Regions from separate parts of the Homo sapiens genome. Here region 1 is linked to region 2. Evidence: fine-mapped expression QTL. Tissue or cell type: prefrontal cortex. Region 2 holds a variant in brackets; the other region holds the start of a gene. All regions are shown on one strand. Distances are between the middles of the regions.

Region 1 (8,106 bases), 100 kb after region 2:
GAAGAGAGTAAGAAGAGGCCGCTTACCCGATTTAAAATTGGTGAGATGTTCCTTGGGCTGGTCGGTCTGAGGACCTGAGGTCGTAGGTGGATCTTTCCCATGGAGCAAAGAACAGGAGGACAGGGGATTGATCTCCCAAGGGAGGTCCCCCAATCCGAGTCACAGCACCAAATTTCATGTGCGTCTGTGTAAAGAGACCACCAAACAGGCTTTGTGTGAGCAATAAAGCTTTTAATCACCTGGGTGCACGCGGGCTGAGTCCGAAAAGAGAGTCAGCAAAGGCAGATAGGGGTGGGGCCGTTTTATAAGATTTGGGTAGGTAAAGGAAAATTACAGTCAAAGGGGGTTGTTCTCTGGCGGGCAGGAGTGGGGGTCACAAGGTACTCAGTGGGGGAGCTTTTGAGCCAGGATGAGCCAGGAGAAGGAATTTCACAAGACAATGTCATCAGTTAAGGCAGGAACAGGCCATTTTCACTTTTTTTGTGGTGGAATGTCATCAGTTAAGGCAGGAACCCACCATCTGGATGTGTACGTGCAGGTCACAGGGGACATGATGGCTCAGCTTGGGCTCAGAGGCCTGACAAAGACAACTGCTTTTCTTCCAGGGCTGATGAGAGACCCAAAGGATAAATAGAGCTTAAAGCAAGTTGGAAGCCGTAGACCATTATGCAGATGCCATATATTATTACTTCTTTACAGTTGGGTTGGTTACTAGAGGACTCACCAGCCCCAGCACCCAGATCTCATGCCTCCTAGCCTTCATGGTTTCCAGAGACATTCTGAATAGCCACGGGCCGGCTGGTGCTGACAACTTGGTGTATTCTGGCCAATGGGGGAGGGAGCTGAACGAAGGGATGTGGGCAGGGAGCCATAGTTCTTCCTGCCAAAGCAGAATCTTTGCCTAATTTCCCCATGACAGTCCTACGTCCATGAAGAACTGAGGAGAATGACATCAGTAAGTCTTACACTCGAGTTTTCTGTCAGAGCAGGTGCAACTTCAAAACTGCTTCCGCCCTCAGGACCAGGCATTTCCTAAACACCCCTCCTCCTTCACTTCTCTTCTCACTGCTGCCTGTGGCTGAGGTATTCTTAATGACAAGCCATCGAGTCCATGATAATCAGCTGAGGAGTGATTCTCATTAGATTTCAGGGAAGGAAAAGGCTCAGGCCATGACTGAAGGATGGAAAATAAGAAGGAATATAGCTAACCTGGCCTCTTCACCTGACTCTACTTAGAGTCCATCTTGACAAGCAGATTGGAGTCATGACAGTTCAGACCTGAAATGCTGGTTTTTATTTAAAGGAGACAGGTGGGAAGAGGGGGATGGGAATAACAACACAGCCATTTGCTGCATAACTAATTACCAAAAATTAACAGCTTAAAACTTAAAACAGCTCCCATAGACCAGGAGTCCAGGTTCAGTGTCTCGCAGACTATAATCAGGGAGGGTCTAGCGTCCCATCTGAGGCTCAGAGGGGCAGGGGCGGGGCGGGGGGTGGTGGTGGTGGTGATGGTGGTGGTGGTCTTCCAAGCACACGTGGTTGTTGTCAGAATTGATTTCCTTGCAGCTGTAGAACTGAAGCATCTTGCCTCTTCAAGGCTAACAGGAAAGAGTGAGTCTCTGACTCTAGGCTTCTTACTTGACATTCTCCAGGAACTCACCTGATTAGGTCAGGCCCACCCAGGATTATCTCCCTTTTCATTAACTTCACCTCAACTGCAGGATTTCTTCACCTTTACTATATTCTACTTTTCAGAAGCAAGTTATACATCCCTCCCACAACTGAAGGGGAGAGGATGACACAAAGATGTGGATACCAGGCAAAGAAATCATAGAGGCCATTTAAAAATTCTACCTACTACATCCTCCGTTTGCTGAGCTCCATGTGTGTGTTGCAGGACTTTCTCCTTAGTTCAGCTAAAGACGGGGTCCTTGTCAAACATCCATGAAATATTAGGCTTGCAGACACTTTGAAGGGTGAGAAAAATGGTATTTATTGGGCGAAAAGGGAAAAAAAAAAAGGAAAAACAGAGACTCTCCGGAAAGCCAGAGTCCTGCTACTGCACTTCCTGCCTGGCGAACTGAATCCCAGGTTCCACCCAGGAAGAGGGCGGCAGGCTCCTCCCCACTGCAAACCACGCGAACCTCCCAAGGCTCCACCCCAGCGTGCATTCCTCCCAGTGTGCAGGTCAGGGAGGCTCTGCCAGGGAGCACTTCCTACCTGGCTGTCTCATGTGGGGTGTGTGTTTGTGTGTGTAACAGAAATCAACTTGTTCCGACTCACCTTAGCAAAATCAGGGGGATTGGTTTTAAGGAAACGATGTCTTGTGGACCCAGGATACAAATGCAGCCTGACCTGTGGAAGGACAGGAGTTAGGGTGAGGAAAGCCATAGGGAAACTTGGATCCCTATGGCTTCATCATTCTCTCTCTCTCTGTGAACCAACTTTATCTGCTGTCCAATTTGTGCTTTACAGTTCCAGCCATGGTTCCAACAACCATGCTATCTCATCCCATTGTCTCTGGTAGAATCAGTATCTCTCTCTTTCTCTCCTCCATTCCCAGTTCTAAATTCTTAGAGAAGGAATCTTGGGTGGGCTGCTCATCTGTATTGTAGTTGTCTGTGGCCAGAGAGGACAGGATGCATGTTACAAGCATGGCTGCTGGGAATCCACCCATGGTGATCATGTAGCGAAGGGAGGATGGGGTCAGTTCCAGGAGAAAGAGGCTGAGGTCCCAAGAGATGTCCACTGCATGGTGTCAGGCTTTGTCATTAGTGGCCAGTATGTGCATATGCCACATCATCTGGTGCACAACTGAGCAGCAAGGCCTTTTGCTGGTGGAGGGGGCGGAATGAGACATGTTTAACAGTGTTCCACAGTTAGTACTATGTGCTGCATAAACCAGGGACTTGTTTCCAGCCGGAAGTGATGCTTCCTGTCAAAATCAGTTTACAGCTATGTTCCCATCACCCCAGCACTTAGAAGAAGGCTGATCCCACAGAAAGAATTCAGCAGCTGCAGAGAATGAGGATATAGGCACACAGGGCCCAATTTAGAGACACAGCCCTGCAGCATCTCATAAACCTTTTTTAGAAATGGCTGAGAAAGAGCTGCTTTGAGCAAGAAGTGAAAGTAAAGAAGGATTGGGTAATCAAAAGCCCGGAAGAAGGAAGGGAATCTTCCAGCACAGAGTGTAATGCTCATGTTTTGCTAAGAAGAAAGTGAGACACACAAAAGGCTCCAGACAGGGCGAGTTATTAAACCTCAGACATGCTGCTTAAGAGCTCTTACCAATTCTTACTTATGAGGAACTGGCTTCCAGATCTCTCGTGTGTCTTATAGTTGTTTTATACAAGTGTGCACAGGGAGGTATAAACTGGATGTGATTCTCACCCCAGGATGTGGGTGCTTACCAACCAGTCCTTCTGCAGTCTTCACATAGTTCAAAGCCAAAGGATCATTTCCAGCGCTGACATATTTGTGGAATCTTCAAGGGAAAGGAAAAGGCTAACCCAAGGCAAAGTGTTATTTGCTCACATCACTTAAGGAATTTTTTCAAAATTCTAGAGATTAACGGGTAAGTCTATAAAATTCAAAAGGAACTACTATATTAAAGTAGGGTTGTCATCACTTCTCCTTGCAGTTATTGTCTCCCTGTCCCCTGGCTCCAAGTGCATTGCATCATGAAAGGAAACTGTCACTCTTTTCAGCATTGGCTGTTCTGACTTGGTATTTTACTGCATGGTGATCTGATGCTGTTGGGGAGACAGGCATGTGGAGCATTTTAAGCCACGAAGGAAGGTATGTGAACTAAATCCACAACTCACCTCTTAGGAACAACTGCCTGAGGATAGGGTTCTTTCAGAAAACATAAGCTCTGGTGACAAATTCACTCAACTGATTGCTGCACCTTGTTTTAGAAAATGCTTCTAGAGGTAGCAAAATAATTCACATGAGGATTTATGAAGATGTACTTCATCCTTGATTTGGGAAGAGGTGAGAGAGACGATGTCCACCTACCACGGTTCACCCATGTGAACTTTCTTGTTACTCCTACTGTGTCATCCAGTCACTGAGCAAAGTCCTGGGCACACTTCATTAAACACAGTACCTGCTTTTGAAGAATTCACAGTCTCACAGGAGAGAAGTATGTGTAAACTGATGGTTAAAATACATCACAGTGTTAGGTGTTGCAGAGGGGAATGGGCAAAGCATTATTAGATCATAGAAGGAATGACTAGGCATGCAGCTCCTTCCAGACTCAGCTTGGGAATCCTCCCAGTCCGACGGCTGTGCTCTACCACTCTCTGCTCACTTTCCACATGACATTGGTACTTTGTGCTCCTGTGTCTCTCTCCCCAACAAGGCTTCAAGCCAGGGTTTCTCAGCTTTGGCATTATTGACATTTTGGGCCAAATTTTTGATGGTAGGGAGGGGGAGCCGTCTTGTGCGTTGTAGAATGCTTAGCATCATCTCTGCCCTCTACCCAGGATCGCTGCCCTCTGTCTGCCAGTAATACACACACACACATACACACATATGACACAGACACACACAACACACACATGAACACAGACACACACATACCCCCCACACTATTAATGGCAATACAAAGTCTCTGCCAAATGTCCCCTAGGCAGCAAAATCGCCCCAGTTGAGAGTCCCTGCTTTAAGCTGTTCCAGGGCAGCAATGACATTTTCTTCATCTCTGAATCCCTGGTGCCCAGGACATTTCTGTCACTGCGAACCAAACAGAATATGGCTTGGAGGGATGAGGGAAGCCTTAAATAAGAGAACTATCTGATTCGAAGTATAAAGAGGAATCATCTAGGTCAGCACTCTCCTATAGAACTTTCTGTGATGATGGAAATGTTCTATGTCTTCACTTTCCAATACAGTGGCTGCTACGTGTGGCCTTTGAGTACTTGAAATGTATGACTGAGGAACTGGATTGATTTCAATTACTTTAAATGTAGCCTTCAAAGGCCACATGTGATTAGAGCCTCCATCTTAGATAGCACAGCTCAAGCACTGAGTGGCCTGGCCCAGGGTAAGCACTACTCATCAAATGCAAGTTTGGGTTTCAATAGATTCCCAGATGATTCAAATATATATTCATACTTCCAGTTTTTCTGACCATTATCCAAGCGTAAAGCAATATATTTTGGAATAAATTGAATATTCCCATGCTTCCTTCTAAAGAGATAATAAAAGAGGCTGATCCCACCTATTGTAAAGCAACCAGGGATGCCATTATTGAGGGGCTTGAAGATAGATGCTGATGAAATTCTTAGAATCACCCCATTTATTTAAAAGCAGCCCATCTGACTATCTAAGCTTCCATGCATTTATCTAAATAATGGATATTGAGGGCCTACCAGATGCTATTGTTCGATGAGATCACAAAGATATGCAAAACAGCCAGAGAGAAAAATGTAGAAAAAACTATGCTGCACTGTTAGAAGGGCAGGAATGGAGTTGTGTGTGTGGTACAGGGAGGATACAGGGAAGGGAGATTCTAAGTGCCTGAGATGGACAGAGAAGTTTTGACAGCAGAGCTGACACTGAGCTGAGCTTTAAGTGAGAATTAGCTGAGTCAGTTTCCTAAACTTATCTGAACAGCCACCAGACACAAACACACACAAAAATCACCTAGGGACTTGTTAAAAAATAAATTCTCAAGTTTCTTCCCTGGAAATTCTTAGTATAGAACTCAGTTTTAGCAAGCATCCCGGGCAAATATAGGAAGTGAGTGTTAGGAGAATGGGGCCCATAATTACCATGTGCTGATAGAAACGGTGCCAAGGTCTTGATAATGTTTCTGATAGCTAAAACTATCAGTATATCACATTTGACTTATATTAGAAGGCAGGAATTTGAAAAATAAAAGAATGAAAGAGAAAGGAAAGCTACCCATACTTCCACCATGTAGACCTAATCATTGATATTTTTGATAAATATTCTGCTTGTCTTTTTGTGTACACTCACACACACTCACACGAAACTGGAAGAATACTATACCTATTCCGTTTTTTACATACTTTTTTATCTTACAATAATTTTAGATTTAAAGAAAAGTTGCCAAGATAGGACAAAGTGTTCACATATACCCTACACCCAGTTTTCCCTATTATTGTCTTATATTAGTACACTGCCTTTGTAACAGTTAATGTACTAATATTTATATGTTACTGTTATCAAAAATCCATACCTCATTCAGATTTCCTTAATTATTATTCATTGCTCTTTTTCTATTCCAAGATCGGATCCAAGATATATTATATTTAATTACCATGTCTCCTTAGGCCTATCTTGGCTGTGACAGTTTCTCAGTCTTTTCTTGTCTTTCTTGACCTCGACAAGTGTTTTGTAGACTTTCCTTAAACGGATATTTTTCTGATATTTTTCTCATGGTTAGATTGGAGTTGTCTGCTTTTGTTTTAATTATAATTTTAAGTTTGGTAAACTTTTAAATTACAGAAAAAAAAAATAAGACAAAGATGCAAATATCATCAACCCAGAATTGACAGTTGTTATCATTTTTGTATTTGTTTCATTTTTTAAGAAAACTAATAGAATTATAGTCAAATTCCCTTTATTGAGCATCCTTACCTATAATTCACAACCCTCCCTGCCTCATAGATGTAACCACTGTCATGAATTTAGTGTGCAATCTTCCATTTCCACTTTTTCCTTTTATATGTATGTACACACACGCCTATAAAACCAGGGAAATATGTGGTATTTACATGTATGTTAATTCTTGTCTATGAATGACATTGTAAGCACATCAGACCAACTGGTTCAACTTTTATGTGACAAAGTTGTGAGTTGTTTTTCAGTTGCCATGGACCCCCAGGTTAAAGGGCACATAATCTGAGCATGCCCAGATGAACCAAATGTGCAACCACAAGGGGAACCTAAGTGCTGGGATGAAGGAGCAGGACTGAATTAAGAAGCAGCAGACACAGCATGGCAGGATCCAGCCAGAGCATGCGTCCTGGCCTCACCTCACTGCCAGATCCAATCAGATCATGCCTTATTACCCATTTTAAAATCTGACCCACCCCCAGCTCAGGGAGACATTTGAGCATTTCCTCCTCTCATGTGGCCAGTGGACTTGCGATTAACCTTTCTCACAGCAAAAACCCAGTGCTTCGGTGTTGGCTTTCCACTGCACATGGGCAAACAGACCCCATTTGGTTTCAGTGACAGCATGATGTACCCATCATTCTTTAACTTGATTTTTTTTCACTTAACCTTTTTTTTTTTTTGATAACTATTCATGTAGATCTACATAGTCTGAGCCAGTTAATTTCTTTTCATTGCTATATGGTATTCTGTAGTATGCCTACAGTATAGTTTATCCATTTTCTTCTTATAGACAGGTGCAAGAAATTCTCTGAAGTATAAACCTCAAGGTAGAATTGCTGGTTTGTAGGATATGGGCTTCCAGATATGATTGAACCGGTTCATGCTCCTAGCAGCAATGTTTAAGAGTTTGTTTCTCTGCATTCTCAACAACAGTTATTACTGACAGATAGTTTAATTTTTTCCGAATGTATAAGAGTGAAATTAAATCTCATTGGTGTTTTATTTTTAATTTTCCTTATTACTACTGGTGAAGTTGAGTATCATCTTAGATATTTGTTAGTGAATTGCTCTTGGGCCCTTTTTTCTACTGGGTGTTTTTGTCTGTTTTTCTTACTAACTTAAACTTTTTTTGTTTTTGCATATTTGGGTTAATCATCCTTTTCTTGTTGTGTATGTTACACATATACTGTTTTAGCCTACAGTTTGTCTTTTAGCATTACTACTGTCTCATTTGTCATTCAGAAGTTTACATTTTGACAAAGTCATCAGTCTTTTCCTGTATAATTTATACTTTTTCTATATTGCTTAAGAAATTTTCCCCTACTTTAATATCTTAAAGATATTCCCTATATTTTCTTCTAGTTGTTGCAATTCTTTTTCATGTTTTCTTTAAGCTACATGAAGTCTCTTTTTGTTTTTCATGTGAGCTAGGAGTCTAATTTTCTTTCTATATGAAACCTAGCTATCCCAGTATCTTTTATTAAGTAGTTCATCCTTTCAACTGTAATG
Region 2 (8,106 bases):
GAATCCAGGAACCATTGTAGGTGCAGAAATAAATAGTGCTTACAGATATACATTAACAAAAATTACATTGAGGAAAAAAAAAGTTGGAATTTCCAGCCCACCGACCTATTCTCCCCACTTCCCCACCTACTACCCCTCCACCCTGCCACACACATACCTGACCTCTGGGGAGGGGAAAGGGACTGGGGATTGAGTTAATCACCCATGGCCAATGATTCAATCAATCATGCCTAATGGAACATCCATAAAAACCCTAAATGAGGAGGTATGGAGAGTTTCTGACTTAGTGAACCTATCCATGTGCCAGGAGGGTGGTGCACCCCAACTCTAAAAGGACAGAAGCTCCTGTGCTTTGGACCCTTCCAGACTTCACCTTTTGCATCTCCTCATCCAGCTGTTCATTTATATCCTTTAAAATAACCTGGTAAACATAAGCATAGTGCTTCCCTGAGTTCTCTAAGCTATTAAAGTAAATTATAGAAACCAAAAGAAGGTTGTAGGAAGCCCTGATTTGTAGCCAAGTTAGACATAAGTGTGGGTAATATGTGGACCCACCACTTGCCGTTGATATCTGAAGTGGTAGATAGTCTTGCAGGACTGAGCTCTTAACCTATAGGGCCTGTGCTAACTCTGGGTAGTGGTAAAATTTAATTAAATTCTAGGACATCTGGTTGGTGGCTGCAAAATATTTAAGAATTACTTGGTGTGGAAAACCCACACATTGGGTGTCAGAAGTATTGTGAGTACAGGCCAGGCACAGTGGCTCACGCCTGTAATCCTAGCACTTTGGGAGGCCGACAGAAGAGGGCAGATCACCAGAGGTCAGGAGTTCGAGACCAGCCTGGCTAACATGGCAAAACCCTGTCTCTACTAAATTTCCAAAAATTAGCTGGGCATGGTGGCGGGCACCTGTAATCCCAGCTAGTTGGGAGGCTGAGGCAGGAGAATAGGTTGAACCCAGGAGACAGAGGTTGCAGTAAGCCGAGATCATGCCATTGCACTCCCATCTGGGCGACAGAGCGAGACACCGTCACAAAAAAAAAAAAAAAAAAAAAAAAAGAAGTATTGTGAGTAGAGAAATAATTTTCTTTTAACTTTGCTCTGCTTCTTCTTATATTCCGGCCAGGAGTGAACCTGTGCTCATCTGTGCTCCCGAAAGAATGGCTGCTTGACAAGCTCATCAACTGCTGTAAAAGGCATTTTTCCTGCTGTGTGTCTAAGAAAAGCACCAAAAAACCACCATGACTCTTTCCAAGGGAGAAATGACAGCTCCGTCTTTGACCTGAATAGCATGAAAACAAGGCAGTCTGATCCAGAGAGCTGCCCTGTCATGGAGAGAATAACCCTTGGGGACACCAAGTACCCAAACAGCACAGCACATGAATATAAACAATGAATACCCAATGGCTATAGGCCTCCTTTGGCTTACAGCCCCTCACAGCACTTTAAGAGGTGAAAATAGAACTGGAAGACGCCTTAGGGATCCCCGGGCACAACCCCCGCTTTTTGCAGATAAGGAAACTGAGGCTAGTTAACATGTCTATTAAAGAAGCTGGAGCAGGGTGAAAGCTAGAACCTTGATCTCAAACTCTCAGGCTTCTGTTTTATTTTCTCTATCACCCTGCAAGCCCAGATCCCAGAAGGGAACCCCATGGTTCCCATCACGCTGCTATAGACTGAATATTTATATCCCCTCAAAATTCATGTATTGAAACCTAATCCTCAATGTGATGGTATTTGGAGGTGAGGCCTTTGGGAAGTGATTAGGTCATAAGGGTGGAGCTCTCACCAGAGGGATTAGGGCACTTAGAAAAGAGACCGCAAGAGCTCCCTGGCCCTTTTCTGCCATGTTGAGGACACAGTGAGAAGATAGACATCTATGAACCAGGAAGCAGGCCCTCACCAGACACTGAACCTGCCAGTTTCTTGATCTTAGAATTCCCAGCCTCCAGAACTTGTGAGAAATAAATTTCTGCTGTTTACAAACTACCCAATCTGTTTTTGATATAACAACACAAATGGACTAAGACACACACTCTAATCTCCTCATGAGAAACTGGGCTTTTACCATAGGGGAGCTGAAGAGAAAAAAACATTGTTTTTTATTTTCTACTGCTAATTTGAAAGGATACTCATATTTATCAGTGCCTCATGGGGGCAGTCCAGTCTGTAAGTCCCAGAGGGAGATATGGAGATGAAAAAGGGTCAAATACCTGGGCCTTCCTGAAGCACAAATCATTCTGTGAAGGCAAACAATTTAGTAGTTATACAGTCTGATTTCCCAGAGCAAGCAATGCTCATCCTACCATTGCTTATGTTTATGTACAATTTAAGAGGACCAAATGGCTTCGTCGCACTGTGGAGTGTCAATGCTGGTGTCATTAACATACAATTATACATGCGTGGAGCAGATCATCGAGTACCTGTCCTCTTAATAAATCACATCATGAAAAGCTATGGTTTAGATGTCACTTTCATTTCATAAAATGATTCACCACAGTATGTCTTAAAAGCTAGTTTTGCTCATGCATTTAGTCTACAATTCCACTGATAGAGATGTGATTGCCTCGCAACTTGTCAGAAACACATCCTCTGAATAAAACATGGTACTCCTCCCAGCCACAGAATGCCAACCTTGATCCAGATCTATTTTGGGCGCTTGGCTCCTAGAAATGAATGAAAGTCGTTGTTGAGGTGGAATTTTGCTTCAGGTCCTGTGGGACTTGATGAGGACATTCTTCCCAGCACAAGAAGCTGACCAGGGACAGGGTGCCACAGCTGAGTGTGTTACTGAGGATAAACATATTTAAACCGCTGTTTGTGGACAGTTCCCCTCCTCCTTTACTGTCAACATATATCATAAAATAAATCCTTTCATTTCATCTTAGGAAGGCAAGATATTCAGGCTAGTGATGAAAGAACAGTAAGGAGAGACTTGATAGCCCAGACCAGTAGCAGCTAAACTAACCTTGAAAGCAGAAGAAAAAAAAAAGAGAGCCACTAAGCCACCGAGTGAGAATGGGTGGCAGGAAGAGTTAGAGAGATCCTGCCCATTCGCATTTCCTTCTCTTCACTCTCTCTTCAGCCTGTCTCTTGACAAGAGTGTCCCGGTTCACCCATCGCAAATCTCCACTTACCATGACAGGCATGAGGATGGAATGTCCTATCTCGAGACACCTACAGGCTAACTGAGGAATAGAAATCAGGGAGGGAAGCAGCTCCTAGGTCTTACAGTTTAATGATTACACCGCCGTTTTCAGCCCCTGACTTCATTAAATTCAGGGTAAGGACGACCCACACGACGTCCTTCTCGTGCCAGGTACTTGGCAAGTCAGAACCAGTCGCCGCTGTGTCCTCCCGGCAAGATGAGCGCAGGTTTCAGAAGCCCCAGCTCTGGAAGTTTGCTGTGCCAGGCTCCTCGGAGCAGCACCACTGCCCCAGACGAACACGCACACACACGCACTCACACACACACACACGCACACGCACGCACACACACACACACGCACGGCTCATTGGACACTTGCCCTGCCACCCCCGAAAGCACAGCGCCGAGGAAAGGCCGGTTCCGGCCGCGAAGGCAGCAGGTGTCCCCTGACCCTTTCCCTCCGCCCTCCAACCCCAGCCCCATCCCTAGCTGAGTTCCTATGGACGCCCCCCAAACTCGCAGTTCTCGGGCAGAATTGCGACCAAGAAATAAAAGACAAAATGAGCAGACTTACCTAACTCGTCTGGGCTGTAGGATGCGGGCGAGGCTTCCACAAACTCACTGTCTGGGGGAGAAGAAAAGCAGAAAACAACTCGAATCGCTACCATTCAGGACGAACCCGCACAAGCACCAGCTCAAGCGCAGGTCCCCGGGAAAAGCGCGGGCTTCTCTCTCCCAGCGCTCAGAATCCCTGAGCCGGAGGCCCCGCGGGATTCAGACCGCCAGATCCCCAGGGAGTGACAAATCGCCGCAGAAACTTGGGGGACAACTCGGCCCTGGCACCGCGCGGCTTCCAGGCGCGGTCAGGCGCGCGCCAACTTTCCCCGCGTGCCACCCCGCGGCTCCCCCGGCCGGGCGCTGGGCCGCGGCCGCATCCTCTGCCCTCAGCCCGCGGGGCGCATTGCTCTGTCTGCCGGGCCTGGCGCCGACGCCCCAGCGCCGAGGAGCCGCGAAGTTTTCCCGCGGTCCCGGGGGCCCGAGGGCGCGCGGCGGCGGCGGCGAGCACCCCTCGCCCACCCAGGCGCCCCGCGCATCCCCGCTCGTTGCTAGGCGACCGTGGCCGTCACGCTCCGCAGAGGCGCGCGCGGCCTCCCAACTCCCGGCTGGCGGAATCCTCCCTAGTCCCCGCCCCGTTTGCCCATTTTCCAAAAAATCAGAGCATAACCCGTTCTAACCCGATTCCCTGCTCTGTTATGTTATGTCTGCCCTCCTCTGATGCTTGGGAAATCGTTTGTTCTGTGGGCTTCTCCT[G/A]AGGAGATGGACGATTTTCAGAGCTTGCAGAAAGGTAGGAGGAGACCCAAATGCCCCCCAATCCCCTCCTTTTGGAACCAGAATTCCAACTCCAGTCCAACATTATTTCCTACTCTTCAAGAGATCACCTGGCTCAAGTGGGCAAAGTAATATGAGCTGCATTGCACAGGTTGGGAAACCGAGGCTGAGAAGTTGTTAATTTATGCGTGACATCATTATGGTAGGGGTATGTGAGGGAGAAGTGGGGGAGGAGAGAAGAGCAGTGCTCCTTCTACTCTATAAAAGATTGACTGCTTTCAAATACAGAATGTAGAAGCAATGGTTATGCTCTGAGAACTGTAAATTCTAAAATAATTAATGTAACACTGTGAGAACCTCCCCCTCTGAGTCAGTAGCCTGATAACTTGGACAGATGTGTTATGTATCTCCCCCCAGCCCCCAGGACTGACTGTGACTGCTCTGCATTAAGGGGGCGAGGGTGCTGGACTTGGGGTGTGCTCCAGAGAGAGCCCCGCAGCTGATGGCCCATAACAGGGTCAGTGGGAAGGAAGGAACAAGTATGGAAATGGTTGTCCTTTCTCCATCCTTGGAGGACTATTGGAGGGTCAACAGTCTGGGCAGCCTCCTGGGGGCCTTCTATTGTCTCAAAGTGATCAGAGCACCAGCTGCAGCAGCCTAAGGGCCCCGATCTGAGCCAATGTGCTCTCATCCTGTAAACACTCAGCCATCTCTGGCTTTTCCACTGTCAGTTTTTGGTTTACAAATCACCATGAAGGACAGAAAGCCCCTTCGGCCAGCATTGCTTAGGGAGCCCAGGGAAGCAGGGGTGGGGCTGTCCTCCCCAAGCAAGGCAGCATTCTTGAGCTGCTGAGCCTATCTCTCCAACCTCTTCTTTTTCCTGCTTCTTATAATCTGAGCTCCCAAATCCAGGAATTAAATATGTTTGGGTGAGGGTTTGCACTCATCACTCCATCCCCTCCCAACTCCTAGAATCCTCCCATTTGTCCTCTGGAACTCATGGTTCATCGCTAGCAAAATCTATATATCCTCAGCCTCCTCTCTGAATGTTTCTTTCAGTGTTGTGCTCTGACCCATACCTGGCTTTCCTTGAAAATAACAGGCTGCATTACTTGCCTCCTCTACTTATTTCAGCCATCTATGGATCCTCTGGTTGTTCTACCTCATTTCTTGAAGATAATGGCATCTGATTCACTGTCACTTTTCCCAGTATCATTCCTGTGATTATTCTTATTTTTCTCCATCTACATAGTCACACTCTGATCTCTCAACTCTTCTGCATCTTATCCCTTTCTTGACCTGCTCCAACCACACCAGCCCCCTGCTGTCATAGCGACACCATGCATAATATCAAGGTGAAGTAATCCACTCTCCTACCTTTCCAGCTTATCCCCTCTGTTATTTTAATCCAATGTGTCCTTGACCCCACCAGCATCTATAATTTACTTATCCATGACCTTTTCTCTGCCCCTCACTCTCCTCATGACCCTCCTTCCTTCCTTATGGACTTTAGTTTCCAGTTTCATTATTATTTCTCTCTTACTTACACCTTCAAATCCATGTTCTGCTCTCTTTCCATGCTATTTACCTGGTGAAAACACAACCCTAGTAAAATATAACTCTCCACCTTCTTTCCATCTACACCCAGCTAAACATGATTGAAGAAGCACAAAATTGGCTGGGCATGGTGGCTCACATCTATATTTCCAGCACTCTGGGAGGCTGAGGTGGGTGGATCACCTGAGGTCCTGAATTTGAGACCAGCCTGGCCAACATGGTGAAAACCCATCTCTAGTAAAAATACAAAAATTAGCCAAGTGTGGTGGCACATGTCTGTAATCCCAGCTACTCAGGAGGCTGAGGCAGGAGAATCGCTTGATACCAGGAGGTGGAGGTTGCAGTGAGCAGAGATCACGCCATTGCAGTCCAGCCTGGGTGACAGAGCAAGACTCCGTCTCAAAAAAAAAAAAAAAAGCACAAAATTATGCTCTCTGGTCTTATTTTCGATTCATGTCCACTAAAATCAAATGGAGCTAGTGCAGCCCAGCAATCACTCTGCATTTGCCTGTTTATTTACTCTCCCGCTCTCTTGTTGCTATGGATGAATCATCTAAGGCCATTATGGCCTCCTGTATGGATCAGATCCCATTTATGTGGCTTTTCCCTCTTCCCACCTGGATTAATATTTTCTTCTGTCCTTGATCACTCCTGTCAGTATACAGACATACTACTATGATCCTGTCTTTTTAAAAATCCTTTCTTGACTCTATGTATCTCCAGCCATTACTCCAATTCTCATCTCCCCTTTACAACAAAATTCATTAAAATAATTGTCTACACTGATAGCACCCATTCTCCATTTTGCTCTTACAAGCAGCCTAAATAGGTTTCTACCTCACTCTGCCAGAGTAGCTCTTGTCAAGGTCAAGAATGGCTTTGCCATTGCCAATTCCAATTATCAGTCCTAGATCCTAACAGCAGGTTTTGACCTGCTGATCTTATGAGTGGATGGGCTCAGATGGGCTGTCTGCAGAATCAGTCTCCTCTGGTTTCCCATAGAATCAAGCAAATAACATTTGTGTCTCAAGAGAGGTGACCTATAGAAGGCCTTGGGATCAGCCAGACCTGGGTTCTAATACCTGTTCCAATACTAGCTAGTAACTTAATTTCTTTCAGCCTTAGCTTTGTGTAAACATGGAGATAATAATCATACCTAGCATACCAATGTGGTGAGAGTGCAATAAACTAATGCACTTGGAGCCCCTAGGAGAGAGAGTGTCACACTGTAAAAGTCAAATAAACATTAGTTATTATTGGATGCCATGCTCCTTTACAGCTGACACAAATGGACTCTTTTTATCCCTTAACAATTTTGAGTTACTAAAAGAAGATATTAACCACAGAGTATGTTTACATTAGAGGAATGTTCGTTGTCTCCAACTTTTAGTTTGCATTCCAAGAGTTGGCTTGAAGGCTGGTTACTTGGAGCTGGCAACAGGTTTACCCCTATGAAGAGCGTTGCCAGTGCTCCACAGGGTGATTAGGTTCTGGAGCCTGCCAAACTGTTCTCACAATGGACTTGCCTTCAATTTGTTCATATAAATGGATGACTTGTAAACTAGGAACTATCCTTACAACATTTTAGTTATTTGAATTTCCTAATCAACTGAGGGTTAATGAGAAAACATTTCTCTTGTTTCAGTATTTGCTGTTGAAAATTCTCTAAAGTCAATGATTCCAATTTTCTATCTTAGGAAGTAGAATAGAGCCAACAATAATGTTTCATATTAATTAAACAAACATTTATTGGGAATTTACCATGCTTCCAGCGCTGTGCAAGGCACTGCAGACACAGAGATGATCAGTGCCCTTCTAATAAGGGATTCCATGACAGACCTTATTGAATCTCAGGGCAATGTCCAAAGTGCCTACCCACACTTGACTTTTATAGGTCTCTTATAAAGAAATGGTTCTGCTGGAGTGTCACTGAGTTATAATAAACAGTGCACAAGTTTACGGATTTGCATCTCAGCTCTGTGAATATTGGGTGGCAGGCATTTTCAGTTTCCTAACAATAATACATACCTCACTGGATTGTTAGGAGCAGCGAAATAGGTAAGGTATGAGAC

Alleles and levels. Alleles are on the strand shown, and positions count from the first base shown. SD is a standard deviation of normalised expression in the study named.
In carriers of allele A in region 2, the expression in prefrontal cortex of the gene that starts at base 4,141 in region 1 tends to be lower than with G alone (moderate effect, 0.72 SD a copy in CommonMind).

Evidence for each region. PIP is the estimated chance that this variant, and not a neighbour inherited with it, causes the effect.
Region 1: LINC02700 starts here. The variant in region 2 is fine-mapped to the expression of LINC02700 in prefrontal cortex (CommonMind, PIP 0.95).

The regions. Positions count from the first base shown.
Region 1 is chr11:94,634,078-94,642,183 of GRCh38, reverse strand. LINC02700 (long intergenic non-protein coding RNA 2700) reads right to left here and starts at 4,141. Exons shown (of 6, transcript NR_187352.1): 1 at 3,831-4,141. The region is part of intron 4 of PIWIL4-AS1 (PIWIL4 antisense RNA 1); the gene reads left to right. RefSeq lists an enhancer at 1,670-2,169.
Region 2 is chr11:94,736,605-94,744,710 of GRCh38, reverse strand. It overlaps PIWIL4-AS1 (PIWIL4 antisense RNA 1), which reads left to right and starts at 4,356. Exons shown (of 5, transcript NR_135093.1): 1 at 4,356-4,493. It also overlaps a transcript of AMOTL1 not described here. The variant G/A (reference allele first, on the strand shown) is at 4,460.